Linked DNA regions of Homo sapiens: region 2 is linked to region 1. A link means that fine-mapping ties the variant in region 1 to the expression of a gene that starts in the linked region. Tissue or cell type: whole blood. Region 1 holds a variant in brackets; the other region holds the start of a gene. All regions are shown on one strand. Distances are between the middles of the regions.

Region 1 (2,685 bases):
GATGAACTAGTGAAATAAGTCATAATTCTTCCATGCCCAAAGTATTGTATTATCTTTCAAGAAGATTTTTTTTAAGATTGGAGACACTTTCTTCATAGTCTGTTTTTAGCTTTCATTGAATGCAGTTAAAAATTCAAATTTTTTCATTTTCTACTTGTGATGGCAAAGAGAAGAAAACTGACAAGGGAAGATGTTTCTGCAATAATTAGATGAACCAGAAGAGGAATATAGAGACAAGATATAGCACTCCAGATACTAATAATGGTAGAATTGATTGTACAACAGAAATCTCAGACTATGAGTCTTCAGATGATGATATCCTAGATGAATTTCTCAAATTCAAGAATCCAGGGTCAATGATACAATTCTAAGGACAAAAATAAAATACAGTACTCTTACACACTTCGATAGGGATTTCATCACATGATATTTTGCAACAAGAACTTCAACCATCTTATTTTGCTAAAAAAAAAAAATACATGTGATGGTATTCTTTTGTCTTTTATGATGTTTATATACCAAAATGTATGTGATACAAAAAGGTCTGCTATGTTTAAATTCTTATTAACAATTCCAGCATACTTTCTTTCATTATTCCTTTTCTTTTTACTTCCTGGTAAAAGGAGGATTAAGGCATTTGACAAAATTATCAGATTATTATTTTATTTTTAGAGATAGAGTCTTGCTCTATTGCCCAGGCTAGATTCAAATTCCTGGGTTCAAGCGAGCCTCCTGCCTCCAGCCCTAGAGTAGCTGGAACTACAGGCATGTGTCACCATGCCCGGCTCTTCAGATTCTTTGTAAATGTGGGTCCTGAGAGCAGTGACAGTCACAGTTCAGAGATTTGAATTTCTCTAATGGAACCAACAGGCCAGTGACAGGACTTGCCGTATGTCAGAGAACATCTTCACCTGCCTCAACAGCCTGAATATGAGCTCCATGATGGGCTCCCCCAGCTGCCCTGCTTCATATTGATGGCTTAGGAAGGGGGCCACTGAAACCATGTGGCTATGCATCCCTGAAAATGAAGAAGAAACTCGCAATAGAAACCACAACATTCTTTCAACAGAGATAGCAAACTAGGGAACTCTGTACCAGAACATCCCCACCTCTTTTCTGAC[A/G]TGCCATCCCTGCTCCCACACTCAAGAACGAGCTGATAGATGTGCCTAAGAGAGCCTTCCATTCAAAACTCGGCCATTTAAACACAGTCTACCTGACACCATGCAATTCCCACTGCCAGGTCCCAGGTATCCTGCCTAATCCCATGGCAGTCGAACTCATCCAGCCAGAGCCTTGACAAGGCTCATCCACAGCATGGAACACCACATTGAAGTTGTTCCTGGTTCTGCTGTGTCCACACATTTTGAATAGACCCTTCTGCACATACTGAGACCAATCTGTAGTCTTCCAAGAATCAACCACATAGCTGTAGGTTACTCCAGCTGCCATTGTGGGAATGGTGGTAAATTGCCTGAAGGGAGAAGAATCACTTCTGGAAAATGATTTATTAATTTTTTTTTTTGAGACAGAGTCTCACTCTGTCACCCAGGCTGGAGTGCAGTGGCACAATCTCGGCTCACGGCAACCTCTGCCTCCTGAGTTCAAGTGATTCTCATGCTAACAAACACTGGTACCTTCCTACTAAGTTTACTCCAGGCTTTATCTGGATTTCACCAGTTTTTCATTTTCTGTTGCAGGATCCAATCCAAGAGCTCACATTACTTTTAGGAAGCTGCTTTTGGATAAAACATGAGGAAAATGTCTAGAGTAGTAACACTAAATGGTTCTGAGGCTCTGTCTATGTGCCAGATACTGCATGGGTTGGAACATAACCTCCATTTATAAATGAGTAAACTGAGGGTCACAGAGGATCCACAGCAGGCAAGTGGCAGAGGAGGGGCATTGCTGGGGCTAGCAGTGGGTACCACAGCCTTTCCTGCCCAGCACAAACCTGGGCATACTGAGTTTTTCTCAAGAGTTTGCATGAAGACCAGAGCTGACAGGTGCCTGCCACCTCGGTACTTCCAGCGCAAAGCTCTGTGGTCAGGCTCCAAGCACTGAGTTAGATGCCACAGTTCAGTTCATCACCTCAGTTCCCTGCAAGGAGCAGCAAGGGCCAGTGGGCCAGAGCTGTCATCTGAATGCTAGTGAATTTGATCCAGATTCAAGCCCTAACCCAGCCACTCACCAGTGCTGTCTTTGGACAAGCCAATAACCTTTCTGAGCCTCAGTTTCCCCATCTGAAATGTGGAAATAATTGTTCCTAACTTCAGCAATGTTAGAAGATTTAAATAAGAGAATACAGGTCCACTTCAGAGAGCATGAATTCCCACCTCTGAATGGCAAACACAGGCATGCATGCACATGTGTGCATGTCTGTCCATATGCATGCACATAACATCATGGGCAAACTACAAATGTCCTCAATCCAAGAGCACTGCTGCCTGTTGTTTCTTTGTAGATAAAGACGAGGCAATTCACTCCCTGTCTACAGTGGCTGATGTGAATTCCATGTCATGGTTCAGAGACAATCTGGAGGGTGAACTCGGTACTGACAAGAGCTGGGGCTGAGGACGCAGCCTCCCAGTTTCAGATGCTTCTGATGGAGGCAGGATGAGGATGCCCAGTCTCCACTCCCCTGAGGTCCTGGGCCTGGTGGCCCCCAGTCCCTCCACACACTCATCA
Region 2 (2,685 bases), 100 kb after region 1:
TGAGGAGGCAGCACTGGGGTCCGGCAGCAGCGGCACGGCTGCGCCCAAGCGCACTGCCAAGCCCCGCTGTCTGGTTCCTACAACGCGGGGCTGGCCGCTGCTGAACTCGATATTATTTTTCCACATGGCCTCTGCCTGAAGATGAGGAGCATCTCTCCGGAAGGTCCCGCGAGAGAGTTAGACATTGCTCCATTCCACTCCTTCCCCCATCACCACCGTCTCCCCTGCCAGAACAGGTCCTGTGTGCGGCTGTAGGAACAGAGGGGTAGACTTCTTCCTCATCACTAACCCGGTCCCTTCTCCGCCTCTGCAGATTTCGTGATCCAAAGCCCGATTCAGCTTATTCAAAAGGAGCCACTTTCATTTTTGTAGGGCTGGCTCAAAACGAGGAAAGCAAGACAGGCAGCAACGCCGCCGAAACGAGAGCGGTGCCAAACCGTTCCCTGCTCGGGGTAGACTTTTTGGAGAAACTCCGGGGCGGGCCGGCAAACACTGTTCCTTTCCAAAAGAGTTACATACAGTTTTCACTGAGCGGTCCCGTGATCAAAGCAGTGAATTTTAAAGGGGACGGAGGACGTAAATAGAAGAAAAAGCAACCGAAATGACTTCTTGTGGTCCTGAAGCCGCTCTGCGAGGCGCCAATTCCCAGTCCTGAACTTCTCTCCTTCCTTTATGCCCCCATTCCTCTTATTTGTCCTGGGGTCCCCGCGCTGTGTGGTTGCCCTCAGGGCACTCCATGGCCGGTCGCCCGGCGTCTCGAGCCCCAGAGTGCAGGCCGGGCGTACTGGCATCGTCTGGGCGCAGAACCGGCCCCGGGCTGGGCGCGAAGCTCGGTTCCGAGGCAGCCCGCGGAAATCCGCCACCCCGGGGCCCACCTGCCTGTCCCCGAGAGTTGCCCTGGCCACCCCACAACGCTTCGCTGCCCCTCAACCTGCCCACCAGTCCCGCAGAAGCAGGTCCGAGCTGGGATGGAGAGAGTGGGGAGCTGCCCAGGAGCGCGGCGGAGTACCTTGGCCGCAGGCTCCGCGCTGCAGGACGATGACCGGCGGCCGGTGCAGCCTCTCGGAGCGGCGGCTGGCGGCGCGCAGCTGGCACAGGTTGGCGTAGGTGTTGGCGTCGCTGCCGCACACCGGCTCGCTGCTGGCGCACACACAGAGGCCGGCCTGCGCGCGCCGCCGCACCGTGGCCGAGGCTGGCACCCCGAAGGGCACCACGCACTGCAGCCCCTCGCCGCACGGGCCCTCCTGCAGGCCGCACGCGGCGCCCTCGGGCGCGCCGCACACCTCGCAGCAGCCGCACGCGTCCCGGGCCCGGCCGCCCTCGCAGTGCTCCGGCTGCGGCGGGCAGCGCGCCGGCTCGCAGCGGTCTGGGCACCCGGCGGCCAAAGGCGCCGAGCGGCCGGCCCGGGACAGCTGCGCCGAGGCGGGCGCCGCCAGCAGCAGCAGCAGCAGCGGGAGAAGAGCGGCGCGCGGGATCTGCATGGCGACTCTGGCGGCGGCGGCGGTGGCGGCGGACAGGGCGAGGGCCGGAGAGCGGCGCCGGGGAGAGTGCAGGAGGGCCTCGGGGGCAGCGGGTGCGAGTGCGCGCGGCCGCGCGGCCCAGCCCATTGGCCTCGCAGCGGTGACGAGCCGCCTTGGGGACGGGCACGGCGCCCGGGATGGGGGCTGGCCGGATGGCGGGAGGGAGGGCGGGCGGCTGGACCGGGACCGCCCGCGGAGGGGGCAGGGCGGGCGCGCCCGGGCACGGCGGTGCTGGCGGGGCGCGGGCGGGGCAGCGCACAGGCCGGCCCTCTCGCGGGACTCAGTTTCCCCGTCTGCGCGCCCCACATATTCGCTTTCCGCAGGTTCTCTCGCTGAGATTCGCGTCCTTCAAACTAATGGAACTTTGCAAGGGGGCCCTGCGGCGGCTTCGCGTGGGAGCGCCGGGGAAAGTTCCTGCAAATCGCCGGACTGGGGGCCCGCCCGGGAAGCTCGGACTGGGCCGGGCAGGGACTGCAGGGGCCTCTGCGCAGACCCGGGGCGTTGCGGCACCGCGGACCCCGGTCACGCGCTGGTTCTGCCCCCGGTACCCCGCACGCGGGACCCTGACCGCGGGGCCTCTGCGGCCGGACGAAGGCAGCGTCCGCGGAGCTGGCAGAAAGCCCGCGCCCAGACCCACAGTGAAGTGATAAAAGCAGAGAGCAGAAGTAATTCGAATAGAATCCTTCACACGTCTGATTCTTTTAAAAAGTTGTTGTGGGTGGCATGCGTGTCCGTATTCGCAGAGAGCCTAGGAAGCGGCTCGGCAGCTCGTAACTGGCGAGGGTGGAGCGGTCTCAGATGGGAAAGGGGTTTTCCCCTCTTTTGATTTTTCACCAAGTGCGTGATTATTTCAAAACACTTGTTATCAAAAATTTGATTTCCCACTGGAGAATCTTTGGTGCATCCGTTGGGACAGATGCGAGTCCGAGAGTCATCAGGAGGGCTGAGGGCGACCCTGGAGGTGGGTCTGGGTGCCCAGGCAGCACCAGGCCTGTGGGCAGTAGTCCTGGGTCCACACTGAGCAGATGGGCACAGCTCGTGTCCAAGGACCTGAGAGGAGGCCCTTCGTCCAGCCCTCATCCCGAACCCTCAAACCTCCACCCCCACCCTGGGCAGAGGCACCCAGGGTTGGGTGAGCCGGCAGAGCTGACTTTGGGATAGAGTA

What was found. PIP is the estimated chance that this variant, and not a neighbour inherited with it, causes the effect.
Region 2: it holds the start of HTRA1, and the variant in region 1 is fine-mapped to the expression of HTRA1 in whole blood (INTERVAL, PIP 0.96).

What each region holds. Positions count from the first base shown.
Region 1 is chr10:122,562,424-122,565,108 of GRCh38, reverse strand. All of the region lies in intron 1 of DMBT1 (deleted in malignant brain tumors 1), which reads right to left. Among named protein-coding and RNA genes, the nearest start is that of DMBT1, 3.0 kb to the right of the region's middle. The variant A/G (reference allele first, on the strand shown) is at 1,122.
Region 2 is chr10:122,460,449-122,463,133 of GRCh38, reverse strand. It overlaps HTRA1 (HtrA serine peptidase 1), which reads right to left and starts at 1,581. Exons shown (of 9, transcript NM_002775.5): 1 at 1,010-1,581. The coding sequence starts at 1,481. HTRA1-AS1 (HTRA1 and ARMS2 antisense RNA 1) reads left to right here and starts at 1,729. Exons shown (of 3, transcript XR_946382.3): 1 at 1,729-2,185.